3 separate regions of the Homo sapiens genome follow, and regions 2 and 3 are each linked to region 1. The links come from fine-mapping of genetic effects on gene expression. A gene starts in region 1. Each other region holds a variant in brackets. All regions are shown on one strand. Distances are between the middles of the regions.

Region 1 (10,173 bases):
GAAATGAACTCTACCTTTGGTACAAAGCATTCAGGTACCCCCTGTGATAGCTTCTGGAGGAAAGAAAATCTTTTAGTGTCCCTAATGGGCTTACTTACCTACTACTAATTAGGTTAATGAAATGATACAGGCTTCAAAGGTGAGGAGCCGAAGTTTCATATACCCAAAAAGGGAAAAGTTCAAAAATGAACGTATAGGACTTGCTCCATTTTTCCTTTTAACCCCTAAGGAATTTAAACAGTGGCTACTTTTCGGACTAACACAAGCCGTCTCCAAAAAGTCATGTAATGAAGGTGTTGAGAACACAGCTCTGGAGCCACGCACCAGCTATATGACCTCAAGTTTTCTGTGCTTCAGTTTCTCACCTGTAAAATGTGGCTAATGAAAATACAGCCTTCATAAGGTTGATGGGAAGATTAAAAGAGTACAATATATGTAAAGCACTTACAACCTTGTCTTCCTAGTGTTAGCTCTATTATTTCATTATCACAGAAGCCCTGCTGTGGACATGCGCCATCACAGGGAAAAAAAAGGCTAAGAATGGAACAACTGGGCACTAGGAAACAAAATGAAAAGAACAGTGTTGTTGACACTCTGGCTAAATCTTAAAAACACATCTACTTCTATGCCACAGTATTTGTCAATAATCTGGGGACAGAGAAAAAGACATTCTGAAATAAGGGGTCAGAGCTGTAGCAGAAAATGTACATCCTTATTTTTCAGGAATTTATAGAGAAAGGCTACTGTTATGTGTGATGATACAAACCCCAGTAAGAGAGGCCAGGCTCTTGCCTATAATCCCAGCACTTTGGGAAGCTGAGGCGGGAGAATTATTTGAGCCCAGGAGTTCAAGACCAGCCTGGGCAACATGGGGAGACCCTGTCTCTACAAAAAGTTAGCCAGGTGTGGTAGTGCATGCCTGTGGTCCCAGCTACTCGGGAGGCTGAGGTGGGAGGATTGCTTGAGCCCACCTCAAGGTGGGTGCAGTGAGCCATGATCGTGCCACTGCACTCCTGCCTGAGCAATGAAGGAAGACCCTGTCTCAAAAAAAAAAAAAAAAAAAAAAATTAAGGGAATCAATAAATCTCCCAAACTCTGTTAGTCCTGAGTTGGCTAAGCACCCCTCCACTAGCCACAAGAAGCTAAGAGTTATTGTTTTGCTTTTTGTTGTTAATGACTGACATTCATGGTCTTTCATTCAATAAATTTTTTAAAATTTAGGCTATTATAATATTTCATGTTTGCCTATACATTTAGTATTATTTAGTAAAGAGCATAATTTTAAAAAATAACAATTAACTGAAGAAGCCTCGAGATCCCTTCAATAAGTTTTTAAACTTTATGAATAATCTACTACAGTCTTTAAAATTTTTCTGTTTTAAATGCCTAGTTATTGGTCCATTACATCTACAGGGGATGCATACACATATTCAGAAACATTTTCTTATGATAATTAGAATTTGTTGTTAACAGTCATAATTGTGTTTTACCATTGATTATTGTGATTATCATAATGTCAGAGGGATGAACAACACATTCGAAACTGAGAAGAAGGAAGACTGCCCAAAGGGCCTGTTGTTAGAGTCTATGCAGGGACTCCTGGGGCTATTAATTATTTATCTACTTTTCAAAGTTAATAAATAGGAATGCCTTTTTGCCCTTTATTCCCCAGAAGAACTTAACCAAATGAGAGATGGGGTGGGTGTGTGCAGAGATGGCAGTGTGAGAATATAAGAGGTATGGGTAATGAGAAGGAGATTTAGAAAAACAAATACTTACTGTCAAATATACTTAATAACATTGCCTTATCTGGCATGTTTTTATTATGAACATTTTGATGTTTTTTGAGTGTTCTTTTAAAAACGTGTGCTTTAGAAGCATAACATTAATAAAAAAGAAAGAAAAATTATATACAATCTCACAACCCAAATAACCCCTTGGCACTTTTTAAAAATACTTCATACTGGCCGGGCACGGTGGCTCACGCCTGTAATCCTAACACTTTGGGAGGCCGAGGGGGGCGGATCATGAGGTCAGGAGATTGAGACCATCCTGGCTAACACGGTGAAACCCTGTCTCTACTAAAAATACAAAAAATTAGCCGGGCATGGTGGCGGACGCCTGTAGTCCCAGCTACTCGGGAGGCTGAGGCAGGAGAATGGTGTGAACCCGGGAGGCAGAGCTTGCAGTGAGCCGAGATCGTGCCACTGCACTCCAGCCTGGGTGACAGAGCGAGACTCCGTCTCAAAAAAAAAAAAAAAACTTAATACTGTATACAGCTGTAAAATTCAAACACCAAGGAGTAGTATTAAATGGAAAAATAAGAACTTCTCCCCTCACTACCCCACTCCATCCATCAAAGAGAAACCCTGTTTATGCTTTTCTTTCCTACCAGAGAAAACAATATGTGCATATATACATAAATTTATTTATCAAAATGCATCATATTATGCACACTGTTTTGTAACATGCATTATTCACTTAATAACATATCTTGGTACTATATCCATATCAGTACATGGTGATTACCACTTTCTTTTTGCTCTTAATGCTTCAGGCCAGAAGCAGTTGCTCATGTCTGTAATCCCAGAACTTTGGGAGGAAAAGGCAGGAGGATTGCTTGAGCCCAGGAGTTAAGATCAGCCTTGGCAACATAGGGTGACCCTGCCTCTAGACAAAAAATAAAAAATTAGCCAGGTGGTGTGCACCTGTAGTTCCAGCTACTCAAGAGGCTGGGGCAGAAAGACCACTTGAACTTTGGAGGTTGAGGCTGCAGTGAGCTATGACTGCACCACTGTACTCCAGCCTGGACAACAGAGCAAGACCCTAACTCAAAATAAAATAATAATAATAATAATGCAGCCAGGTGCAGTGGCCCATGCCTGTAATCCCAGCACTTTGGGACGCCGAGGCAGGCGGACCATGAGGTCAAGAGATCGAGACCATCCTGGTCAACATGGTGAAACCCCATCTCTACTAAAAATACCAAAATTGGCTGGGCGCAGTGGCTCACGCCTGTAATCCCAACACTTTGGGAGGCCGAGGCGGGCAGATCACGAGGTCAGGAGATCGAGACCATCCTGGTTAACACGGTGAAACCCCGCCTCTACTAAAAATACAAAAAATTAGCCGGGTGTGGTGGTGGGTGCCTGTAGTCCCAGCTACTCTGGAGGCTGAGGCAGGAGAATGGCATGAACCCAGGAGGCGGAGCTTGCAGTGAGCCGAGATTGCGCCACTGCACTCCAGCCTGGGCGACAGAGCGAGACCCCATCTCAAAAAACAAAACAAAACAAAAACCAAAATTACCTGGGGATGGTGGTGCACGCCTGTAGTCCCAGCTACTCGGGAGGCTGAGGTAGGAGAATCACTTGAACCTGGGAGGCTGAGGTTGCAGTGAGCCGAGATTGCGCCACTGCACTCCAGCCTGGCGACAGAGCGAGACTCCATCTCAAAAATAAATATATAAATAAAAGTAAATAATAATGTTTCAGTGACTATCTTTGTACCCATAGCTGAGTGTTAAATGTTTTTTTTTTTTAATACGGCCCATACTGCAAAAGTGCTGCAAGTACAAACTAAGCAGTCTAATCCCAGCTGTGTGGTAGGAAAAGAATGATCTCGTTTCTATGGTTCATTTCAGTTCCTTCAGGAAATTTCCTGCAACATTGTTATTTATATCAAATGGGTCTCAAGAACATGAGAGGGCTACTGAGAAGAGGACTGTTTTCCACCTAGAGGAAGGTGAATATGTCTAACTGTTCACTGCTGGCTGTAAAGGCGCCTGTGGCAAAGCAGTCGTCCTGTCTTTGCGCTTAAATCCACCTGGTGTGCCGCCCCTACCCTTGCTTACAGGACTGTACTGAATGCCCATGGCATGAATGGAATGTTTGCAGAAGGGGAAAATAAGCAAGCGCTGGAGAGACATGCATAGAACAGCAGGTAAAACTGCCAGATGACTATGCCCTTCACCCACTCATGGAAGGCCAATATGAAGCCGTGTTCAGAGTCGTCTGCCCAGAGCTACAGAGGAATACAGCTGAGTGGCAGGGCTGAGTAAGAAAGTGACTACAGAGTCACAGCTCAGAAACAATCCTAACCAAAAAACCATCTTACACCTCTGCATTTAGCTGCCTCAAATCCTTTCTAAATGAAGAGGGATTTAAATTTTATTTTAAAATATTTCAACATAGTACTTTTCCAAATATTTGTTATATTCGTTATCTCATGACCCACACATTAACTCTAGCAAGCAGGTATGCCAATGTCATTATCCCCACTTAAACATGACATGCCTGAGGGGCTGCGAAAGTTAAATGACTTGCCTAGAGTCAATCAGCTGACCAACTGTTCTGGCCCAAGAACTGTGCTCTCCTGAATTCTCCCAATCCCACCCAGGCCCAACAAGTCCAGCTGGACAATTTTAGTGTTCCAAAGAAAAGCTAGGAATGAAGCTGGAGATATAAATATAAAAATATTCCTTCCCAAAGACACCTGAGATCTGAAAACACCTCTTCCTAACAAAAATTTAACAAATTAAATATCAATGTTGCTAAGTGCCAAGTTGATATACCACACTTATATCTGGACAGAACAACTACAGTCTCTACTAGTTACAAAGACTTGTGAGAAATGTTGGTTTTATGTTTTATTATAAACATTTATACTATCTCAGCTTTTTAAAATATGGTAGAGTTTAATTTTTACAGTTAAGATATTGTCTTGGGGTCAGGAGTGGTAGCTCACACCTGTAATCCTAACACTTTGGGAGGCCAAGACGGGAGGATTGCTCGAGCTCAAGAGTTTGAGACCAGCCTGGGCAACATAATGAGACTGTGTCTGTATTTAAAAAAAAAAAAAAGGCCAGCATGGTGGCTCACACCTGTAATCCCAGCATTTTGGGAGGCTGAGGTGGGCAGATCACGAGGTCAGGAGATCGAGACCATCTTGGCTAACACGGTGAAACCCCGTCTCTACTAAAAATAATAATAATAATACAAAAAATTAGCCGGGTGTGGTGGTGGTTGCCTGTAGTCCCAGCTACTCGGGAGGCTGAAGCAGGAGAATGGCGTGAACCCAGGAGGCGGAGCTTGCAGTGAGCCAAGATCGCGCCACTGCACTCCAGCCTGGGCGACAGAGCGAAACTCTGTCTCCAAAAAAAAAAAAAATAGTTGCCGTGGGCAGTACTAGTGATTTGTTAATTATATATCCAACACCTATTTCTTGAGTTGCCTTCTAGTCTAGTCTGGACTGGCTTATAGGAACGTTTTTCAAACTTTTTTGACAATGGCCTACAGAAGAAATATATTTTACTTTGTAAAGCATAGACATGTGTCTGTCATTGAAACAAAAATTTCACAAAATAATAATCACCCCTCTTTTGAGTGATTCACTTGGATATCTTCTATGCTTTTATACTTTGCCACCTTATTTTTAAAAATACAAATTATGGCCCACTAAATGGATTCCATGACTTACAAATGGGTCACAACCCAAAAGCTGAAAAATACTGGCTTATATGAACAATACACAGATCGTGCCCTCAAGGAATTTATACATTAGTTGGGAGTCTCATACAGTTCACAGACCTCTTACAGTTGGAAAGGCCTGGAGGTCAATTAGTTCCACTACCTACTCGATATTTGATTCTACAGCATCCCTGAAAAAAGGTGAGAAATGTGAAAAAGGCTTGTTTGCTATTTCAAGGACAAGAAGTTACCTCTTATTTGGAACCTAACACAAGATGGGTCAAATAGAGACCCGTTTTTAACAGGTCTCTATTTAAAACAGTACAGAAGCAAATACAAATGAATCAAGTATCAAAATACACACTTGATTTCTTTTTTCTAAAAGATAACTTGGACCTTTGTTCCTAAACCCATCTTAGTCCTTTTTAGGAGGAGGGTGAAAAGGGGAAGGTAAATCAGGGGGACAGAGGTCTAGAAAGCCTTCTCTCTGATGACCTGAAGAAGGGGTCTTAGCAAGTTACATCACAAGCAGCCTTCGTGATTGAGGAGCCTAATAAATGACACCCACAATGACGGCTAGGAGAGTGGAAGTCAGGAAAGGCTCCCCTGAGGAGGTTTGAAATGAGCTGAGTCTTGAAAGACTGACTGGCATCAGACAGGTGAAGAAAAGACGGGAGAGTGTAGTCAAAGACTCTCAAGGAGAAATGAGCCAGTACATTTGGCGGACAGTAGACAGGTCCCTGAAGAGGAGCAATAAGAGATGAAGCCAAAAAGAAAGACTGAAAGCAACCTGTGGTGAGCAAGACAGAATTTGGATTTTATTCTGTAGGTAATGTGGTGTTACTGAAGGTTCCTCAGTGTGTAGAGTGGTATTTCAGAATTGTTCATCTGCACATAGACCTGAAACTTGGCTTTAGAAAGACCTAAAGACCCAGAGTTCAGATAACAGATTCTCAAGCTGTGTTTTAGTACAGAGAAAAATGTTCTGTAAGGGACTTTATAAATTCAGAATTCTAACACGAGCAGTGTTGGTTACCTAAAAATTAGAAAAACTGGAATATAGAGTTTAGATAGCAATGGAATCCAATTTATTTTTCATCATTTTACTTTTGTTAATGAAGTGTGAGCTTTGTCTGTAGCTGCCATGAAGTGACTGATTTCCTTTATAAAACCTACAGTCTTTATTCAGAAGCAAGTCTTCAATGTTGCTATGGGCCTAATAAATTATTATAAACCATTTTGCAAAAATTAAATTTTGCCTAAACAACACTTTTAATAATAAGGTTGTCTAAAGTTAATATACAAACAGGGCTCTCTGAGGGTGTTAACTATCTAGTAATTCAGGCTCTGCTGGATACAGTGACAGAGCTCTATGAACCTCAACTAGAACTCAGGTCGGCCTCAGGTGAATATAAACACTGTATGTGAGTCACCTTGCAATTACAGCTGCCACCTGGAAGCAAATTTAAGCAGTAAGAACTACAAAACCAAATCCCTGTAAGATCCTGCATTGACCTTCCTCTTACTTCTTCCTGTCTGAGGATCCATAAACCTCAGGATTCTTTACTAATTTCTCATCAGCATCATTTTTTATTGTATTTCCAAATTTAAAAACAACTGTCTCCAAAGGCCTCAAAATTACTTTCAGTTATTACTATAATAAATATCAGCGATGTATGATGTATTAATTAGAAACTAAGGTGTTTTTTTTCCCCTCCCCACAGGAAAACTACTTCAGAGAAAGACTTTAAATTTCTGAGAAAATCTTTATACATATTGAGTATAGATGCTATCAACCACATACATGAAAATAATTGTTTGGGGATAATGCACACCATTTGCCAATGATTAAGATTCAGCCCAGTCTTTGTTGCTGCATTTCTACATTCACATAAATTGGTAAGTCATGATGACACAGAAGGCTCACATGCCACGTAAAAATTTCAAGCCTGGATCTGAATGGGTGCCTGAATCCTTCTCAGAATGCATATTTTGGAGGCAACTGTTTGGTTTATGTTACTGCTCCCTAAACTGGGCAGTGACTCAAGAGGCAGCTGGAAGAGAGAAGGAGGTGCTGGGCAAGTGCTAAAAAAGAGTGAAGCCTCAACAGCAGAGTCCCTCCCCTTCTCTACACACCACACAGCCTTTTTGTGACTTCTTGTCCCCATAAGATATGCTCCTCTAGACTAACTCCCCTTCCCAGGGTGGAGCAGAGTCTCACCGGCTCATTATCTCACAGCTCCCGGGATGGCCCCGGGTACAGCAACTGTGTGGCACTTGGCTGTGGAAATTCAAGTTTTTCCACCCTAAAACAAGTAGGTTGTGAAACCCGATTTCGGTCCTGGTTACCATTGAGAGGGGCCTACCACAGCCCTGTGCCTGGAAGTTCCTGCCTGTCGAAGCTCCTAGCCCCCTGCCCCATCCTCACCTTCTGCACCTGATGGAGAAGGTGCAGTCCCTCCGCGCACCTTACATGCCCATGCCACACTGGTGGACTCACGCACGCACGCCAACTCTGCCATCCCATGCACGCCCGGCTTCGGAGGGCGGCTACGAACTTACTGCTCGTCGAGCCAGCCGAGCCAGGGCGCAAGGGGAAAGGCCCGAGCGGGGCCGGGGATAGGATCGGATAGGAGTCGGGGTCGTGGATGGGGTCGGGGCGGACCCCGCCGGCCCGCTGGCCTCCCTCCCCTGACCCCCGGGACAGCCCCCGATGCACGTGCTGGGTGACAGGCCCCCTATAGGTTCCATACCTGCCACCGGAAGTGAGTGAGGAGGGCAGTATAGGCATTTCCTGTGACGCGAGCGCCTGGACTCCATTAGGCAGCAGCTGGGGGAAGAATCAACACACCAGGGAGCAGAGCGGAGCGGATCCGAGGACAGAGGCGGCAGCTGCCTCCGCTGCCGCCCGCCGCCGCCGCCGCCGCAGCCACTGCCGGGGCTCAGCCCAGCGGCGGGCCCCGCGCCCCCGCAGCCGCCCCGCGGCGCCCCCCGGCGCGACCCCCGGGCCGCGCACCCCGAGCTGCCTCCGGGAGGGGGGGGGGAAAGGGCCCGGATCCTCCTTCTCCCCCTCCTCCTCCTCCCCCTCCTCTCACCCTCACCCTCACCCTCCTACCCTGACCCCCTCCCCGCCTCCCCGGCCCCCCTCACCCCGACCCTCTCCCCGGCCCCCGCCTCCCCTCCCCCGCCTCGCCCCACCGGCTTCCCACCACGGCCTCTCTCGGCGAGGAAACTCTGGCCTCCGCTTCCTCCTCCTCCGACTCGGACACCGGCGGAGCCTCCCCGCCCCCGCGGAAGAAACCCCGAGCCTCGGCGGCGGAGGGAGTAGGAGAGCCCGGGGCTTCGGCAGGCAGAGCAGGCCTCTCCCCTCCGTCCTCGTCGTCCTCGTCCTCCTCCTCCTCCTCCTCCTCCGTGGTGGTAGTGGTGGGACTTCCCCCGGCTGCTGCCCCTCCCGCCGCCGCTGCTGTCCCCCACCGAAGTAGCGGCCACAGCCTGGTCAGCGGCAGCATCATGCAGGCCAATGGGGCAGGAGGAGGAGGAGGAGGTGGCGGCGGCGGCGGTGGAGGAGGAGGGGGCGGCGGGGGCCAGGGACAGACCCCGGAACTCGCCTGCTTGTCGGCCCAGAACGGGGAGTCGTCCCCCTCGTCGTCGTCGTCCGCGGGGGACCTGGCCCACGCCAATGGGCTCCTGCCTTCCGCCCCCTCCGCCGCCAGCAACAATAGCAACAGCCTGAATGTCAATAACGGGGTTCCCGGCGGGGCGGCCGCCGCATCCTCAGCCACCGTCGCAGCTGCCTCCGCCACCACCGCCGCCTCCTCTTCCTTGGCCACCCCAGAACTGGGCAGCAGCCTCAAGAAGAAGAAGCGGCTCTCCCAGTCAGATGAGGATGTCATTAGGCTAATAGGACAGCACTTGAATGGCTTAGGGCTCAAGTAAGTATCCCTTACCGCCAGCTGGTGATGGACAGACCGAGGGACGGAGGCTCCAGGGGGGTAGGGGAAGGGGCGGAGGGGGGAGGGGGGCTTGAAAGAGCTCGGTCAAAGAGAATGAGTGCTGGGCACGCAGGACCCAGTACACAGGAGGACGCGGCTCAGGGCGACCGGGGAGGAGGAGCGGACCTGAAAGGAAATAGGGGAAAATCAATCAGTCTGACAAATTGTGAGACGAGACAGGCGTTGAGGGGTTAGGAAGGGTTAGGAGAAACCCAAAGAATGACTTCTCCCCACGCACCTTCAGAGCTTAATTGTCTGTCAATAAAGACAGATGCGGGAGTGTGTTTCTGTATGTGTTGGGGGAGGGGTGGATTAGAGCTGGTGGAAATAATGAACCTTGGAGGATTTGTTTTTCAAGTGTATCTTGGAGGCATCTTTGTGGGACACCTCCCCACCCCCAACCGTGGCAGACAACAACCCAAGCAAACTACCAATCAGGAAAGACAATCACCTACAAGTGTTTATGGGAACGGAGGGGCTGGGATCATTTGGAAAGAGGTTGTTGAATAAATCTGATGCGAATAATGAAGATACAGTGTTGATGTCGTTTAAAGGCCCTTGTGTGTGTGTACAAGAGGCCTAACCCTAACTAGTCTGAAATCTCAGTTTAATACCAAGAAGATGATCGCCTCTGAAAAGGGGACATCTGATCTGGTGAACCATTTGTTTTCAAATACAATTTAGGTGGCCTTGTATACCTAACATAGGGTGAAGGT
Region 2 (10,173 bases), 25 kb before region 1:
TTTAAAAATTAATAAGGAAGGTCACTGGACACAGAATCAACACACAAAAATCAACAAACATGTAGAAACCAAAGCTGAAAACACAATACCATTTACAATTGCTACAAAGCAAATGAAATACTTAGTTATAAATCTAACAAAACATGTATAAGAGCTGTATGCTGAAAATTACAAAATGTTGATGAAAGAAATCACAGAAGACCTAAATAAATAGAAATACTGTGTTTATGACTTAGAAAACTCAACACTAAAAACATCAATTTTTCCCAAATTGATTTACATAATTCCTATCCAAATTCCAGCAAGGCTTCTTATAGATATAAATAACTTATTCTAAAATTTATATGGAAAGGTAAAGGACCTAAAATAGTTACGACAATTTTGAAAAAGAAGAATGTTGTAAGAAGAATCATTCTACCCAATGTTAAGGCTTACTAAATAACTTCAGTAATCAAGACAGTAGAGTACTGGTGGAAGAATAAATATGTAGATCAATGAAATATAATAGAGGAAACAATAGAATCACAAAAGAATGTACAACTGATTTTTTTAAAGAAAAAAGGTACAAACATGATTTAATAGAGGAAGGACGGCCCTTTCAACAATTGGTGAAGAAAAAAAAAAAGTCTGTAGGCCAAGAAAAAAAAAGAAGAGCCTCATACCTTTTACAAAAATTAACTTAAAATGAATCATTGATTTAAACATACCATGTAAAACTATGAAACTTTTGGAAAAAAAAAAAACAGGAGGAAATCTTCAAAACCTACGGCTGGGAGAACAGTACTTCAACTTGATATCAAAACTATGATCCCAGCCAGGCGCAGTGGCTCATGCCTGTAATCCCAGCAATATGGGAGGTCGAAGTGAGTGGATCACCTGAGGTCAGGAGTTCGAGACCAGCCTGGCCAATATGGTGAAACCCCGTCTCTACTAAAAATACAAAAATTAGCCGGGCTTGGTGGCACCTGCCTGTAATCCCAGCAACTCAGGAGGCTGAGGCAGGAGAATTGCTTGAACCCAGGAGGCAGAGGTTGCAGTGAGCTGAGATCGCACTATTGCACTCCAGCCTAGGCAATGAGAGCAAAACAAAAACAAACAAACAAACAAACAAAAACTATGATCCAGGAAAACTTGATAAATTGGACCTCTTAAGAATTAGAAAATTTTGCTCTGTGAAAGCTCCTGTTAAGAGAATGAAAAGAGCCAGGCATAGTGGCTCACGCCTGTATTCACAGCACTTTGGGAGGCAGAGGTGGGCAGATGGCTTGAGTCTAGCAGTTCAAGATCAGCCTCAGCAACATTTCCAGCAGTTCAAGAAATGTCTCTACAAAAAACAGAAAAAATTAGCTGGGTATGGTGGCACACACCTGTAGTCCCAGCCACGTGAGAGGCTGGGGTGGGATGATCACTTGAGCCCAGGAGGTCAAGGCTGCAATGAGCCATGATCACACCACTGCACTCCAGCATGGGTAACAGAGTGAAACCCTGTCTCAAGAGAATGAAAAGATAAATTACAGACTGGGAGAAAATATTTGCAAGCCAAATATCCAACAAAGGATTTAGTATCTAGAATATAAAGAATTTCCAAAACTCAACAGTAGAAAAGCAAACAATATAATTAGCAAGTGTACTAAAAACATTTCACTGAGGAGTAGATACAGGTAACAAGCTAATAAAAAGATGTTCAACCTCAGTGATTAGGGCAATCTAAATTAAAACCACAATGCATTATCACTACATGCCTAACAGAGTGATAAAATAAAAAATGTCAAATTCTGGCAAGGATATGGGAAAAACTGGATCACTCTTACATGGCTGGCAGGAATGTAGAATGGGATAGCTACTCTGGAAAATATTTTGGCATTTTCTTTTAAAACTAAAAGTGCACTTACCATACAACCCAGCAATTGCACCCTTGGGCATTTATCCCAGGCAAATGAAAACCTATATGCGCTCTGCAATCTATACATGAATGTTGATAACAACTCTATTTATAATAGCCAAGAACTAGATACCACCCAAATGTCCTTCAATGTATAAATGGTTGAAGAAACTGTAGTACATCCATACCACAGATACTACTCTGCAACATAAAGGAAAAAACTACGATAGAATTAGGCCTTGGCTGGTTCTCAAGGGAATTATGCTGATTGATTTTTTTAAAAAGCTACAGACTGTATGACACTACATAAGTGATTCCATTTACGTAATGTATTTGAATAACAATATTAAAAGATGGAGAACAGAAGAATGGCTGCTGGGGTTATGGACTGGGGAGAAAGAAGGTAGATGTGACTATAAAAGCATCAGGGAGGCTTATGGTGATGAAATGGGTCTGTATCTTGATTGTGGTGGCAATTACACAAAGCTACATGTATGATAAAACTGCATAGAACTACATACACACACAAATGAGTGCATGTGTAACTGGTAAAATCTGACTAAACCCTGTGGATTGTACTAATGCCAATTTCTGGGTTTTTGTTTTTCGTTTTTTGTGTTTTTTTGAGAAGGAGTTTCATTCTCATCACCCAGGCTGGAGTGCAATGGCGAGATCTCAGCTCACTGCAACCTCCGCCTCCCAGGCTCAAGCGATTCTCCTGCCTCAGCCTCCCGAGTAGCTGAGATTACAGGTGCCCGACACCATGCCCGGCTCATTTTTGTATTTTTAGTGGAGATGGGGTTTCACTATGTTGGCCAGGCTGGTCTCAAACTCCTGACATCAGGTGATCTGCCTGCCTCAGCCTCCCAAAGTGCTGTGGTTACAGGCGTGAGCCACAGCACCCGCCCAATTTCCTGGTTTTGATACGGTATGTAGTTATGCAAAATGTCAACATTGAGGGAGGAGGGGTGAAGGATGCACAGGACCTTTCTATACATTTATTTGCAATATCCCGTTTATAATTATTTCAAAATAAAACATCTAAAAAAGAAAACTGGCTGTTCAAGCAAAAATAATAGTATAGACTGTGGTTTATAACAAATGTGTAAGTAAAACGTATGACAACAACAGCATAAAAGCTATGAGGAGGGAAACAAAGGTAGACTCCTGTAAACTTATGTTATGTGTGAAGTGATACAATATAACTTGAAGGTAGACTGTGATGAGTTAAAGATAATTCTAACCAGCCAGGCATGGTGGGTCACACCGGTAATCCTAGCACTTTGGGAGGCCAAGGTGGGCAGATGACCTGAGGTCGGGAGTTCGAGACCAGCCTGACCAACACGGAGAAACCCCGTCTCTACTAAAAATACAAAATCAGTCAGGTGTGGTGGTGCATGCCTGTAATCCCAGCTACCTGGGAGGCTGAGGCAGGAGAATCGCTTGAATCCAGGAGGTGGAGGTTGCGGTGAGCCAAGATTGTGCCATTGCACTCCAGCCTGGGCAACAAGAGCGAAACTCCGTCTCAAAAAAAAAAAAAAAGATAATTCTAACTATCTTGGCTGGGTGCCTCAGCTTACATCTCTAATCTCAGCACTTTAGGTGGCTAAAGTGGGAGGGTCGCTCAAGTCCAGAAGTTTCAGACCAGCCTGGGCAACATGGTGAGACTGTTTCTACAAAAAATCAAAAAATTAACTGGGCCTAGTGGTACACACCTGTGGGCCCAGCTACACGGGAGGCTGAGGTGAGAATATCACTTGAGCCCAAGAATTAATGACTGCAGTGAGCTGTGATCACACCACTGCACTTCAGCCTGGGCAATAGAGCAAGACCCTGTCTTTAAATAAAATAAAATGAAATAAAATCTTTAAAAAAAAGAAGAATACAGCTGGAAGACTTATGCTACCTGACTTCAAGATTTATTTAAAAGCTACAGGAATCAAAACAGTGTGGTTTGGTATAAATAAGGAAAATAGATAAATGGAACAGAATATGGAAATCAGAAATAGATCCATACATAAATGGAGAACTAATTTTTTACAAAGGTGCCAAGGCAATCCAATGGAGAAAGGATAGTTTTTTCAAGAAATAGTTCTGGAACAATTGGATATCCACATGCAAAAAAGAAAGAAATGAACTTTGATCCATAACTCACACCATACATAAAAATTAGCTTAAAGCCAGGCACGGAAAAGTATTACCTATTCAAAAATTAAACTAACTAGCTGGGTGCAGTAGCACATGCCTGTAGTCCCAGCTACCTGGGAGGCTGAGGCAGGAGGATCCCTTGAGCCTAGGAATTTAAGAACAGCCTGGGCAACATATAGAGACCCCATCTCAAAAAAAAAATCAATTCAAAATAGAGCATTGACCTAAATGAATAACCTAAAACTATAAAACTTCTAGAAGAAAACACTGGAGAAAAATTTTGTGGCCTTGGGGCAAAGATTGCTTAGACATGACACCAAGAGCATAACCCATAAAAAATAAATATAAAGTGAACTCCATCAAAATTTAAAGGTTAAGCTCTTCAAAAGATACTCCGAAAAGAATGAAGACAATCCAGGTCGAGCGCGGTGGCTCACACCTGTAATCCCAGCACTTTGGGAGGCTGAGGTGGGCGGATCACAAGATCGGGAGTTCGAGACAAGCCTGGCCAATATGGTGAAACCCCGTCTCTACTAAAAACACAAAAATTAGCCAGGTGTGGTGGCATGTGCCTGTAGTCCCAGCTACTCGGGAGGCTGAGGCAGGAGAATGGCTTGAACCCAGGAGGCAGAGGTTGCAGTAAACTGAGATCATGCCACTGCACTCCAG[C/A]CTGGGCGACAGAGCGAGACTCCCTCTAAAAAAAAAAAAAAAAAAAAAAAAAAAAAAAAAAAATGAGGACAATTCATAAGCTGGGAGAAAAATCATCACAAAGCACATATCTGATAAAAGACTTGTATCAGGCCGGGCACGGTGGCTCACACCAATAATCCCAGCACTTTGGGAGGCTGAGGCAGGCGGATCATCTGAGGTTGGGAGTTCGAGACCAGCCTAACCAACATGGAGAAACCTCGTTTCTATTAAAAAATACAAAATTAGCCGGGCATGGTGGCACATGCCTAACCCCAGCTACTCGGGAGGCTGAGGCAAAAGCATCGCTTGAACCTGGGAGGCAGAGGTTGCTGTGAGCAGAGACCGTGCGATTGCACTCCAGCCTAGGCAACAAGAGTGAAGCTCCGCCTCAAAAAAAAAAAGACTTGTATTCATGCTAATAACTCCAAAAATTAATAACGAGAAAACAACACAATTTTTTAAATGGCCAAAGGATTTTTAACAAAACATTTTAACAAAAGACTGACCATCCCAAGAGTCAGCAAGGATATGAAGAAACCGGACTCTCACACATCATTGGGAATGGAAAACAGTACAAGCACTTTGTAAAACATTTTGGTAGCTTCTTAAAAAGTTAAACAGGCCAGGCACAGTGCCTCACGCCTGTAATCCCAACACTTTGGGAGGCCGAGGCGGGTGGATCACGAGGTCAAGAGATCGAGACCATCCTGGCCAACATGATGAAACCCCATCTCTACTAAAAATACAAAAATTAGCTGGGTGTGGTGGCACACGCCTGTAGTCCCAGCTACTCGGGAGGCTGAGGCAGAATTGCTTGAACCCAGGAGGTGCAGGTTGCAGTGAGCCAAGATTGTGCCACTGCACTCCAGCCTGGTGACAGAGCAAGACTGTCTCAAAAAAAAAAAAAAAAAAAAAAAAGTTAAACATATTTTGGGAAACCAAGGCAGGAATATCACTTGAGCCTAGGTGTTTTGAGACCAGCCCATGTCTACAATAAAAATACAAAAAATTAGCCAGGTGTGGTGGTGCGTGCCTGCAGACCCAGCTACTCAGGAGGCTGAGGTGGGAGGATCACCTGAGCCTGGGAGGTCGAGGCTCTGGTGAGCCGTGATCACACCACCACCCTTCAGCCAGGTGACAGAATGAGACCCTATCTCAAAAAAAAAAAAAAAAAAAAATTGGGTCCAGACCTAGTGGTTCACACCTGTAATCCCAGCATTTTGGGAGGCCAAGGCGGGCGGATTGCTTGAGGCCAGGATTTCGAGACCAGCCTGGCCAACATGGCAAAACCCCATCTCTACTAAAAATACAAAAATTAGCCAGGCGTGGTGGTGGGTGCCTGTAATCCCAGCTACTCAGGAGGCTGAGACAGGAGAGTCGCTTGAGCATGGGAGGCAGAAGTTGCGGTGACCCAAGATGGGGCCACTGCACTCCAACCTGGGTGACAGGGCAAGACTGTTTCAAAAAACAAAAAAAATTTAAACATAACAGGATTTTTAGGGCAGTGAAACTACTCTGTACAACACTACGATGGTGGATACATGTCATCATTAAAGGTTTGTCCAAACCCATAGAATGTACGACACCACATGAACCCTACATTAGGGTAAGAGTGAACCAACCCTACTGTAAACTATGGACTGAGTGATAGTGATGTCAATGTAGGTTCATTGATGGTAACAAATACACCAACGGTGCGGATGGTGATAATGGGGGAGGGTTTACATGGAGCAGGGCAGGGTGTATATGAGAACACCCTGTACTTTCAGCTCAATTTTGCTGTGAACCTACAACAGCTCTAAAAAGTAAAAGTCTTTTTTTTAAAAAAAAGGAAAGAAGTACTGATAAATGCTACAACGTGGATGAACATTGAAAACACTGTGCTAAGTGAAAGAAGCCAGTCACAAAAAACTATATACTGTATGACTCCATTTATATATGTCCAGAATAAGTAAATATATAGAAAAAGAAAGTACATGATTAGTGGCCTACAACTGAGGCATATGGAGGAGAGAATGGGAAATGACTGCTAATTGATATGGGTTTTCTTTTGGGGTGAAATATTCTAAACTTAGATTGTGGTGCTGGTTGTTGCACAACTTTGTTAATCTACTAAAAACCAATGAATTGTGTCCATTTTAAATGGGTGAATTTTGTAGTATGTTAAAATCTTAATAAAGATGTTTTAAAACTGTTTAAATCACTATGGTAACTGAAGAAATCATTTATGTAAGGTATATGCATGTGAGGAAGAGATATATACTCAGAAGTAAATACATACGTCCATAGGTTCAATAAATTCCTTTTAGTTATGATCTTAAATCAGAGGTAAGCAAAGGGAAGCAAGTGTGCCTTGTGTGCTGATACTATTCTATAGAATACTGGTATGCTTATCTCCCCTTAAAGAAAGGGGAGTAAAAGCCATACTGGCTATAAACTCATGTTGTTTAAAATGTATAATGCATCAAAAATAAGTCTGTATTAAACATCCTTTGTTTAAAATATACAATGGAGGCCAGGCACAGTGGCTCATGCCTGTAATCCAAGCACTTTGGGAGGCAAAGGTGGGTGGGTCACTTGAGGTCACGTGTTCGAAACCAGCTTGGCCAACATGGAAAAACCCCGTCTCTACTAAAAATATAAAAATTAGCTGGGTGTGGTGGTGGGCGCCTGTAGTCCCAGCTACTCGGGAAGCCAACGCACAAGAATTTCTTGAACCCAGGAGGTGGAGGTTGCAGTGAGCTGAGCTCGCCCCACTGCACTCCAGGCTGGGTGACAGAGTGAGACTCCATCTCAAAAAAAAAAAAAGAAAAAATTAAATTTAAATAAAATATACAATGAATTAAGGGTAAAGTCATAATAAAAACAACTGGCTGGATGCAGTGGCTCTCGCCTATAATCCCGGCTACTCACAGCTACTCAGGAGGCTGAGGTGGGAGGACTGTTTGTGCCCAGGAGTTTAAGGCCATAGTGAGCCATAGTCACGCAATTGCACTCCAGCCTGGGTGACCAAATGAGACCACATATCTAAAAAAAAAAAAACCCAAAAAACCTACCACATGATCTAGCATTCTACTGCTGGATATATACCCAAGAATAACACAAAGGCACATACACAAATGTTCAGAGTAGCTTTATTTTAATAGCCAAATATTGGAAGTGATCCAAATGTCCATCGACAGGTGAATGGATTAAACAAACTGTACAGATGTGGTATATCCATACAATGGAATGTTATTCATCAATAAAAAGAAAAGAATTGACACACACAAGACACAAGAATCTAAAAAATAATTATGCTGCGTGAAAGAAGACAGACAAAAGAAGAGCACGTACTCTATGATTCCATTTATATAAAACTTAAGAAAATGCAAACGAATCTGCAGGGACAGAAAGCAGTTCAGTGGCTGCCAGAGAGAGGGTTTTCTCAGGGGGAAGAGGCCTAAGAAAACTTTTGTGGGTGATGGATATGATCCCCCTGTTGATTGTGGTGACAGTTTCACAGATGTAAACATATGGCAAAACTTATCAAATTATCCACTTTAAATATAAGCAGTGTATTGTATATCAATTATACCTCATTGTGGCTGTTTTAAAAAGATGACTCCAAGCTTAAGAAAGATAAACCAGGAGGGGTAGATCATGCCTGTAATCCTAGCACCCTGGGAGGCCGACGTGGGTGGATCACTTGAGCAACCTGGTCTTAAGCTCAGGAGTTCGAGAGCAGCCTGGGCGATATGACAAAACCCTGTCTCTACAAAAAGTACAAAAGTTAGACAGGTGTAGTGGCATGGGGCTGTAGCTCCAGCAACTCTGGGGGCTGAGGCAGGAAGATCGCTTGAGCCCAGGAAGTTGAGGCTGCAGTGAGCTGTGCACATACCTCTGCACTCTGGCTGGGTGACCAAGCAAGACCCGGTCAAAAAAAAAAAAAAAATAGGGGTTCCATGACTCTAACAACCCCTCCCCGCCCAGGGTGTGCAGGGGAACTGAACCAAGAGCCTCATTCCTGGCCTTGCTTTTTCTGAGCTCAGGCCCAGGGCTTTGCACAAGCTCAAATGTGCATTTTACAAAGGCAATCAGAGCAGCCTGTCTCTCCTCTCTGATACTTCTGGGCCCTCCACATCGCTACCCCCATATTTAAACGGAAGCTAAGAGACACTACTATCTATGTGCTTATGAAACCCCAGCTTCACTCCACCCCCACCCTGGGAAAGACTTCAAATTCAATAATTCTAAGGAGAAAGATAAGCACAAACAGATCTATTTTATTCCGTGTACAAAGTTCTAACAGAAGAAATGCCTCGCCCAAGATAGAAGTTGTTATTTCTTTCTTTACTGAGAGGTATTTGCCCCTTTGCCATAGTATAGATGAGAACAGGAAAATACTTGGGATATCGCTGAGGGTCACGTTATCTGTTATAATGAGGTTTGGCTCCATGGAATAGAAAAGTTGTTTTCATACTGCAAGGATTTCTTTTCATCACTTTGTTAAAGACCCGGAATAAACAGTCAGGAACTGTTTTGGCAGCTCTGTGAAGTCATCAGGGTTTCGGCCTTCTGTTTCCTCCAGCATGTGACATCCATCCTCAAGGTCACATGATGTCTGCTGAAGACTTGATCTAAGCAGTAGAAGGAAGAAAGAGGGGAAGGCAAAGAGAGGGGCCCTGGATGTCCTAGAAGATAAAAGCCAGGCTACCAGAGAGGAAGTCAGGTGTTTGGCCATTTGGAGTCAAACAGATAATAGACACTGGAACCAATCCTGGGATGGCATTTAGGCACCTTGGAGGGTGTGCCCTAAGAGAGCTGATCACTGGAGCTGAACAGGGCCTCTGGGTACAAGGACCACATAACAGTATGGTGCTTAAATTTTCCCCTTTTCTTGAAAAGTTGCTGCAAAGCGCTCCCCTCCTAAGTTCTGGCCCCGTCTTTCCGGGACTGTATTAGAAGTGCAAGCAGGGCCTCTCCTAACTGTGGACCAAACAGGCACTGGGAGACCCCACTGACACTTTCCCTGAATACCTCGCATCTTCCTCTGAGCACTCAGCTACCCAGTGTGTCTGATACCCATGGTGATTTGGGTATGTGGGTGGATCCAAGCAAGACAAAAGTTTGCTGTTCCTGAACACACACTTGAAAAGTGGTAAGGTCTCAACAAATTCATAAAAGTGAGTTCAGTATGTTATCATTAGGGGGAGTAGTAGGAAAGTGGTAGGAGGTCTGTTCAACAGTGGAAGGTTGGAATCAGACAGTAACAGCCACAGAGAAGGTAGTCAAAGGGTGGTTGCTGTCATCAGACCAGGCTCTCCTGCCCACCAACCGCAGGCCACAATCCCAGCCCTTCTCTCTGATGTCAGGAGCTGGGGAGCATCTGCCTTGCCAAGCCTTGTGCGATCGGCTCCTGGCAGCCTCACACCTGGTAGGATGAGGGACGGGGAGTGAGCCAGAGCCCCTCT
Region 3 (10,173 bases), 58 kb before region 1:
AGCAGAGGTGGCCCACGAGCAAGGCTTTGAAGCATAAGCAGGGCTCTGATCAGTGGAAGCAGATGGTAGGTTCCAGGAAGTGGCAGAAGGGGAGGCATGGAGATGTGATGGTGCAGGGTGTGTGGAATGCACAGATGCCGGCTGCTTCCTCGGGTTCCAGCCCCCCTTCTTCCATCCTAGCAGCCTCATTGTCCACTTAGGCATCCACTGCATTGTGGGGAGTCTTGAGGTCAAGGGAAATCGTGCAGCAGGTAGCCACTCAGCACATCCCAGCCCACTGGCGACTGGGGTTGGTGCAGGGGCAGATGTACGTCAGAAACAAGTCTACTCAGATTAAAGATCAGTCATGAATGCTGGGGAAAAGTCATTCTTTTTTTTTTTTCTTTGCTTTTTTGTCTCACTCTGTCGCCCAGCAGGTTGGAGTGCAGTGGCACAATCTCGCCTCACTGCAACCTCCGCCCCCTGAGTTCAAGCCATCCTCCCTCCTCAGCCTCCCAAGCAGCTGGGACCACAGATGCATGCCACCAAGCCTGACTAAGTTTTTGTATTTTTGGTAGAGATAGAGTTTCGTCATGTTGGCCAGGCTGGTTTCCAACTCCTGAGTTCAAGCTATCTGCCTGCCTCGGCCTCCCAAAGTGCTGGGATTACAGGCATGAACTGTTGCACCAGCCAAGTCATTCTTTCTTTAGAGACATGAGATGAAGGCTGCTGGCAACCATTTTGGGACCATGAGAATTAGGAAGAAATTGTGGCCAGGCACAGTGGCTCAGTTTGTAATCACAGCACTTTGGGAGGCTGAGGTGGGAGGATGACTTGAGACCAGGAGTTCAAGAGACCAGTCTGAGCAACATAAGGAGACACTATCTCTATAAAAAAAAAAAATTGTTTTAATTAGTCAGGCTTGATGGTGCAGGCCTGTAGTCCCAGCTACTAAGGAGGCTGAGGTGGGAGGATCACTTGAGCCCAGGAGGTCAAGGCTACAGTGAGCCATGATTGTGCCACTACACTTCAGCCTAGGAGACACAGTAAGATCCTGTCTCAAAAAGAAAAAAGAAAAAAGAAAGAAAGGAATTAGATCCTTGGGGAATTGTTGAGCCTTACCCAAAGCCCCACTCTGACACTAGATTTCTTTTTCTTTTCTTTTTTCTTTTTTTTTTTTTGGTAGAGATAGGATGTCGCTATGTTGCCCAGGCTGGTCTTGAACTCCTGGCCTCAAGCGATCCTCCTGCCTCAGCCTCCCAAAGTGCTGGGATTACAGGTGTGAGCCACAGTGCCCAGTCAGCTGACTCTAGACTTCTTTTGTCCCAGAAGCAAATAACGGCGTGTATTGTATAAGGCAGTTGAGCTATGCTTTTCAGTTTCTTGATGTTCAAAAAATGACCCGAAATAGAGAGTTATAAAAAATTGAAACTAGAAAGGTATTAGAGGGTTAAATCATGAAAGGCTTTCCTTGCCCCATTCTAAGGCATTAGACTTTATGCAGGCAGTAGGAAATCCCATTGAAAACTGTTGAGGAGGGAGGTGGCACATCAAATCTGTTTTAGGAAATTGATGGCAGGATGAAAGATAGACTGGAAGGGAGAGGGATTAGAAGCAAACCAACAAAAACAACGATTGATTAGTCATGAGTCTCGGCTGGTAAAGGACATTTTATCAAATATCTCCAGATGTCCACATGGCCTGGAGTGGGGAAGAGTAAGAAAGCAGAGATACCTATGGCAACCTCTCTTCTTATCAGAACCAATGGCCTGCCCTTCACCCTTAAGAGCTTAGTGTATACAGCAGAGAGTCCAAATCCTAATACTGTATTACAATACCTCAGAAGGCTACCCAGTTGTCATAGAAGCTTCAAACAACAGGAAATTTTTAATTTTAAAACAAAGTCCATTTTAATTTAAATTTTTAACTAACATTTTTAAAAGGCGGGGAGTAGGATACAACCCCAAAACAATAAGCTTTAACGGAGTGTCTTCACTACCAAAAGTTTGTGAATCACTGATCTAAATCATGGCACTCCCAGCACCCCTTCCCGGAGCGGGTGCCAGTCCTGGCATGGGTTCCCAGCCCTCTGGGGAGCTACTGGTGTGCTAAAGCTTTGCAGTGCCTGCGGACAGGAAGAGGCTCCAGAGCTCCCAGAGCTCCCATCCTCAGATCCACAAAAAAATGCGAATCTCTCCTAGAGCAATGTAAGTGTCTTGATTCCTCTTCCTGTCGCCTTTCCCCGCTGCCCTTTCTGCTGCACTGTTGCAGCACTGGGCTGATGACGCCAGGGCAGTGAAGGTTCCTTGCCCCCCGCATCTTCCCCTGTGCTGAAGCAGCGCATGGTAACCTGGCTGCCCGTGTTCTGATGCATTCTCCATTCTTTCCCACAGGCACACTCCCACCTGCATTCCAAACTGACTGTTTCATTTACATAATTCCAATAGCTTTCACTGCCAGCTTCCTGTTTTTGTAAACTCATGTAGAATTTTTTAGTTTCATAAGAAACAAGGGCCCCAGCTCACAATCACCCTCTACCAACATAGTTTATCTGCATCAAAGAAGACAGGGAAGCTTCTGTCCATTGGTTTCCCTTCTTATTTTAGAAATAGAAGCTTAAAAAACACCCCAGTGGTTTCCAATCCAGAGAGTTGCATATAAGCTTTTGACTTTACTGGTTACTGGCTTCCTGTTAACTGAAAGAAGTTTCAAGCTGAGTCAGAGAAGAGAACCGGGCCCAGCAGTGATTCATTAGTGTTGCTAATGACACCCCTACCGCCACCACCATCACTGCTGCTTTTGCTGGGGCTGCTGGGGCCTCCATGTTAGCCTAATCCTAAGAGAGCAAGAAACTGAAGCCATTGTCCTGATTTTCTCTTCCAGATGGCATTGCAGTGGCAGCAGTGAGCACAGGCCAAGCAAGACTGGCCTTGAGATGAGGAGGCCAGATGGGCCCTGAATCAGGGTGGTTTCAGGATGCCCAGGAAGGCACTGCTGCTGCAGAATAACTTCCCCCTCTCCCTGCCCTCCCTTTGCACAGTGCCTGAAGATTCTTCCTCCTTCTGAGCTTTTCTGGTCTTCCTGTAAGATACAAATACAGCTTAAAAGGGCTGCTCATACCCTAATATGATTAATGTGATGAGCTCACTTTGGAAAATACTAATCACTTGAGACATGCAGATGGAAGAGATGCTGAATTATAACCCAAAAGACTACCAGGCCAGAAAAGACAGTCAGGAAAGAGATGCAAGTGTCAACTACTTCTCAGTTTTGCCCAGATCCGGGCTTCACTGCAGGGTCATAGTCAGGAGCATCTGACCACCATACAGCCAGCAGTGCAGGAAGTGTTCAGCACTCTTCAGCCATGACTCTAGTTTAGGGATTTCTCTCAGTGCCAAGATCCTCCTGGAGGGCTCCAACAAACAGCAACACATAAAAAAAGTTGCTTTAGAAATGCATCTATAACAACAAAGGGTTCCCAACCCATATTCTTGCAGCTAAGTCTGTCATATGCATTATCTTATCTAATCTTCACAGCAACCTAGGAAACATCACTTCTCCTGATTCTACAGATGAACAGTGAAGATGATGCCACAAGTAAATTTCTGACTTAAAATATCATATTCCATCACAGTATAATTGATTAATTCCTAGACTTTAAAAATCAACATATCATTCACATAACATAAAATCTATCATTTTTTAAAGTAAACATAAAATCTATCATTTGTTAAAGTATACAGTTCAGTGGTTTTTAGTATATTCACTATGTTGTGCAAACATCACCACTAGCTAATTCTAGAACATTTTCATCACCCCAGGAAGAAATCTTGTACCTATTAGCAGTCACTCCCAATTCCTCCCTATGCCTCTCTCCCTGACAACCACTCCTCTACTTTCTGTCTCTATAGATTTGCCTATTTGAACATTTCATATTAATGGAATCATAAAATGTAGTTTTTTTGTGACTGGCTTCTTTCACTGCATGTTTTCAAGAGTCATCCATGTTGTAGCATATAATAGTACTTCATTCCTTTTTATGGCTGCATAATATTCCATTGTATGGATATACCACATTTTGTTTATCCATTCATCCATCAAAGAACACTTGAGTTGCTTCCCCCTTTCAGCTATTGTGAATAACGCTGCTATGAACATTATTGTACAAGTTTTTGTGTGGACATATGTTTTCAATTACCTTGGGAATTCCTAGAGTTTTTATATATCTGAAAACATAGGTAAGTCTAAAAGAAATGAGTATCAGCTATGGTATTGCATTCATTACAAGGTATTTATAATATGCCTGTTTTCAATAAGGATTTGCAGTATTCCCACCATGATATCCTATGCCACCTGTAGTATTGTACCCGTCACACTGAGTCTGTTTCCACAACTGCATGGAGTGCTCTTTGAGGGAAGGGACCCATCCTGTTCACTGTAAACAATTTCTTAAGTATAAGTCGCTACCTGTCTGTGAAGCAGCAGCACCTTCCTGGGCATGCTGAAACCACCCTGATTCAGGGACCATCTGGCCTCCTCATCTCAAGGCCAGCCTTGCTTGGCCTGTGCTCATACTGCTATACCACCTGGAAGAGAAAATCAGGAGGCTTCAGTTTCTTGCTCTCCTAGTATCAGGCTAACATGGAGGCCCCAGCAGCAGCAGGAGCGATGGTGGTAGCAGAAGGGGTGTCATCAGCAACACTAGTTAGGTGGGCCAGAGCTGAATGGACTGGAGTTGACATCTGCCCACGGGACAGCCAGCAGCACAGAAAGTGCTCAGACATGGAAGTTCTCCCCACAGTCTCCTCAGGCAGGAATGGATCAATTAGACCCTCCTCGAGTGGATGGTGGTTGGTATAAGCCAAGAGACACAAGAGAGGAGGCAGCAAGCAGCAGCCCTGAGGAAGCAGAAGTTCTAGGGTATTGAGAACGACATGTAGTTGTTCAGTAACTGCTGGGCTGGCAGAGAGGCTGAGACAACAGACTCGTGCAGCTGGGAGGACAAGGGGCTGAGTCTCTGCCACTACATGAGATCTTGAATAATTTTTCACTTCCCAGATTATGTTTCACTCCACATGAAAAGAGCATATCTTACTGCTTAGTTGCGCTCTCTCTGCCCACGGATAGCTCACAGATGCCTTTTTCATTGTTGTGTTTTGCAGAGATGGGGTCTCACTGTGTTCACAGGCTGATCTCAAACTCTTGGCCTCAAGGGTTCCTCTTGCCTCAGTCTCCCAAAGTGATGGGATTATAGGAGTGAGCCATGATGCCCACACTCAGCCCGCTCCTCTTGCCCAGAGAGTTTGCACATGGACTGCTGCTCCCCGACCCCCTCCTCCAGCCACTTCTCTCCAATAGCAAATGCCCTTCCCCTGGTGAATGCCCATTCCTCCTGGGATCTCAGCTCAGCATCACTTCCTCCAGGAGGACCCCTTGGAGCAGTAAAATCCTCTCCTCTAAGCCCTCACAGCTGCATCAGCGTCTTTGTGACACCACTGCTGTAAGACTGCATCTATGGAGTGATTCATTCATATTGATGCCCAGCTACACAAACACTCCATTAAAGTAGAGACTATTTTGGCTCAGCTTTGTATCCCCAGCACCTAGCCTGACACCTAGCAGGGCAATAAATATTTGATGAACGAATGAATTCATCGTTTTTTTCCAGGAAGGAAACAAGTCCAATTTTTAAGTAGTTAAGGATACAAGACCTTCCCATTGATCTTGTAGTAAAAAATCATATTGGATTGACAAAACTCAAGGTATATACAAGGCATGTCCTGGGACCCTCTCCTTCTGCCATAGGAAGGACAATACCTTGGCATGGGAGAGAAGGGGGCTGGGATCAGGACTGGGCTCATTGTGTGAGGTAGTCTCAAGTCCTTACATGAGGAGGCTCATTGAACAGCCAAAAAATTGATGAGTCTCAGGTAGGGGTCTCAGGAAGGTCTCCCCTGC[C/T]TACCACGGGAACTACTCTCACTATGGGGCAGTTCTGATAGGCCTCTAAGGCATGAACTGGTAGAGAGTGTGTGTGTGTGCATGTGTGCATGCGTGTATGAGTACATGTGTGTGTATTTGTCCTGTACTCCAGATTCAGGTAAGGAGCAGCTTGGGGGGCTCAGGCGCAGCCCCTGAATAGGGGAAAGTGGAGGTAGGCAGAGAGGGCAGAAGAAAGCAAGCCACTTTCAAAACAACCCTCCAAAAACATCTGAGAGACTTTAGTGTAATAATCTGATTTTGTGAGACAAAGATCCAGAGGGCGTTGGGCATGAGTCCAGTTCAGAATCAATCTGGTGGGCACCTCAGGGCTCAAAAATACTCTCTTTACCAGGCCCTGACCTGGGCCACCTGTTATTGGAGCTGTGGAAGTTGGAATTCAGTTTTGATTAGGGCAGAATCCCAAAGAGGTCTTTAAGATAAAGTGGCTGCAAAAGGAACCCCGAAAGAACCATAGAAGTTAAACTACAGAAACCAGTATTTAGTACCATCAAGCTGGTTATCACACGGCTTCAGCCACAAGCAAAGATTTGGCAGGAATGTGAACTCAAAAATCAGGACTGTCAGGCAGCAGGCTTGATAAATCAGTTACTTCTTCTGGTCTCCTCTATCATCCTCCCCTCCCTGCTTCCAAGATGTAGGCTGAGGGGGAACACAAGATGTAGCACTGGTTTCTGCCTGACATACATTCTCTGGGCCTACTGGTCTGAGAGCATTAGAAGGACACAGGGATAAATCAAGAGGACCCAGCATGCTGAGAAAGATGTGAGCAGAATTAGTTAATTCTACTCCCTTGGACTAGATAGCACGTTGAGAGGCTCTGTGATTTCTGAAATCCTGTATGAAAATTATACAAGATCTAATGTTTCAAGGTTCCTTTAGTCAATTTTATCAATAAGGGATGTGAAATACCAACACTGCTGATAAAATATTCAGAAATTATATTACCACAGCTTTTGACCTGACATCTGTGATAAGACATATTTAAAAATCGACCCTGGTGGCTTTTAAGGCTAAAAGACTGAAAGACATTATTACTGATTTTGCAGTTAATTTGAAGAACCACATCTGATCTTCCATTGTCCTTTCTCATCAGATCAATACCTTCAAGTGTATTGTCAGTTAAAATGCTGCAGTACTGCAGCAAATTTACATACCCGATTGGTTCTGTGGCAGTGATAAGCACAAAGTGGTGTTAATGACGGGACTCTGGGCTGTCCTTTGCAGACTGGAGAGGAAATTATTGAGTCTCCTCCAGGTGCGTGAGAGGAGAAAGGAATCGCACTCTCTCCCCTGCCATTCTTCTCACCTCCAACCTACACAAACAGCTTGATTCCTACCTTTGTTTCTCCCATGTGCTTTTGGGAGTACCACTGAATGAGAGTGACCTGAATTATCTACAAGATATGGTAAAAGCAAATCATCCCCAAATTCCAATACTTTTTACTGTAACTGAAACAAGTCACTTTGATAAACCTTGCAACTCATTGGGACGTCTCAACTTTGTGCTTTGTTCTGTACTGGAAACCACCTGCTCCCCTCTCTGCCACTCCCAGGTGTTTACTTTTCATAATTTTTGCTAACAGCAATCACACCCCTTCCTTGAGCCCTCGGGGTAGGTTGAAACTACATTTAAAGAAGCACACTAGGTCTCCCTACCCCACTCCCAAAACATCATAAACACACCTATTAACACACACACACAAACGTTCAGCGCCCCAGGTAGGTTTCCCTGACCTTTTGGTTTGCTAAAGACAACTTTAAAAGCCAAAAAATGACTTGCAAACTTCCTTTATGTTCTGCAAATTTAAAATTTCCGCATATATATTACACGAATCAGTCACCTACCCTACTTACCCACCATATCAAGTTTATATACAAAGACTAGCCAAATAACTTCCAACAAATGGATTTCTTTAAAAAACAAAAAATAAAAAGAAGGAAAATTTTGTTTCTAGGCTTAAAGTACCTTTGTCAACTGGTGACAAATAAAACAAGATTTCAAGGGATGATTAAAGACCCTGGGTCAATGCCCTCACTCTCCAGGGAAATCGTTGACTCAATCCTTATAAATGGATTCCATGGATCACTGTCCTCCATTCTGATATTGTTGGTGATTATAGTAAAATAGCCAAAGTCATTCAGTCTTACTATCAACAGATGGTGCCTGCTTTTCTCTCATACTTGCCTAAAAGCCTCTGTTACAAACTCAGAAATAAAATGGGAACTTTTTGAAGAAACGTCAAAAAAATATGCAATAAAAACTGTAACAGGTAGACTCGGAGCACAGGCTTTTGAGCAGGAGCTGATGTTATTACCACAGACACCTGTGACTCTATACTGGGGACTCAGGCCTTCCAGGATGTCTAGCACAGAAAGAGATGACTTCAAGAAAGCAGACTGTCTACCCCAAGATCAGCAAAATAAAATCTTCTTATTAAAATTCTTTGTATATATGTTAAACTAGAAAATTGAAAGGAAAAACTTCAAACAATAATGATTATGTAGAATATATTAATAGATTTTATCTATAAACTACCCAAAACCATGGCAACAATGGTTAAATATTATTCAAAGTGCTTTTATTCAGTTCCTTCACCTTTACGTCATGTAGGTTATTTACTTAGGCTCAATAAAAATCCATCCTCTTTCCTGTAAGATTAAACTGAATAAATCAAATTTGCAACAATAACCAAGACCCAAATCTCATTTAATTAGATATGACAAGCCACTTTTAAGGAACAAGAACTATGCTTTACAGGTTGGGGAGGAATGCCTACACACAGTAATGTGTCGGTAAGTGTTTAACAACCAGCTCTGCAAAGGAAAAAAACACACTGTGTTGTTGCATTTGCCAATTTCTGTGGCATAAATATTCCTGTCATGGCCAATGTTAACATGACATCACTGAATGTGGAGTTGAGAAGACATGAAATGGCACACCATTATAAAGTATTTCCACCATAAAGATGCAATATTCAAGTTGAATGATGAAGAATCATTAAATAAATAAATGCAATAGATGCAGAGAGGCCAGGCACAGCAGCTCATGCCCACAGTCCCAGCACTTTGAGAGGCCAAGATAAGAGGATCATTTGAGGCCAGGAGTTCAAGAACAGTCTCTGGGCAATATAGCAAGATCTTGTCTCTACAAAAATAAAAATAAAGTAAATAAATGGGCCAGGTGCAGTGGCTCATGCCTATAATCCCAGTACTCTGGGAGGCCGAGGTGGGAGAGTCACTTGAGGTCAGGAGTTCGAGACCAGTCTGGGCAACATGGTGAAACCCCATCTCTACTAAAAAATACAAAAATTAGCCAGGCATGATGGTTGGCACCTGTAGTTCCCTGCTACTTGGGAGGCTGAGGCAGGAGAATTGCTTGAACCCGGGAGGCAGAGGTTGCAGTGAGCTGAGATTGTGCCACTGCACTCCAGCCTGGGTGACAGAGTGAGACTCTGTCTCAAAAAAAATAAATAAATAAAAAATAAAGTAAATAAATGAATTTATTTAATAGATGCAAATAAGCTTAAGAGCATAGATAAAAATAAACTGCCATACAATAATTAGTAAGAGATAAGTTTTGAGTATTTATTGCCATTGTTTTAAACATAATTTATTTAATTGTATATCATAAAGTTTAGTTTCTCATAATGGCCATGTTTAACAAGCAGCTTACAAAATTCCTACAAATTTAACAATCAGTTCTTGCAAGCCAGTATGAGCCGGTTCCAGCACACCATTCCCAGAAAACTGCCCTGGAACTTATTCTGTGGTTTATGGAATATCAGCTTTACAGATAGTAAAGAATTGCCTAGCAAGTTAGGAAAATGACTAATTTGGAGGGGTCTCAGACAAACGAAACCTCATAGAAGCAAACTGGATGGTTTTTGTTCCTCAGCTCAGTAAATACACTAATAAGGGCCTGTTAAAGCAAACTAAATATGGCCTGAGAAGGACTCCGTATTTCTATATTTGAGTACTTGTGGACAAACTGTAACCTTGTAATAGGCAGACAAGATTGAGAACCTAACTTAGGAGTATGCGCCTGTAACAATAGCTGAGTCTTGGCCAATCCCAGTGGCCATACTTCAACCACTCATAGACTGCTAAGTGTTTAAACTGTGTTCAAATAAGGCAAATGCCAACCCATAGCCAATCCAGCTGTTTCTGTACTTCACTGCCAATTTCTGTATGTCA

What was found. PIP is the estimated chance that this variant, and not a neighbour inherited with it, causes the effect. A credible set is the group of variants that fine-mapping cannot tell apart.
Region 2: its variant is the best candidate, but not a certain one, in a credible set for the expression of WDR26 in blood mononuclear cells (TOPMed, PIP 0.61).
Region 3: its variant is the best candidate, but not a certain one, in a credible set for the expression of WDR26 in whole blood (INTERVAL, PIP 0.65).

The regions. Positions count from the first base shown.
Region 1 is chr1:224,432,908-224,443,080 of GRCh38, reverse strand. It overlaps WDR26 (WD repeat domain 26), which reads left to right and starts at 8,284. Exons shown (of 14, transcript NM_001379403.1): 1 at 8,284-9,397. The coding sequence starts at 8,676. It also overlaps a transcript of CNIH3 not described here. RefSeq lists an enhancer at 7,376-7,565 and a silencer at 7,906-8,305.
Region 2 is chr1:224,458,363-224,468,535 of GRCh38, reverse strand. It overlaps a transcript of CNIH3 not described here. Among named protein-coding and RNA genes, the nearest start is that of WDR26, 29 kb to the right of the region's middle. The variant C/A (reference allele first, on the strand shown) is at 4,700.
Region 3 is chr1:224,490,889-224,501,061 of GRCh38, reverse strand. It overlaps a transcript of CNIH3 not described here. Among named protein-coding and RNA genes, the nearest start is that of WDR26, 61 kb to the right of the region's middle. RefSeq lists enhancers at 1-319, 320-820, 2,196-2,727, 2,803-3,002, 2,728-3,257. The variant C/T (reference allele first, on the strand shown) is at 5,938.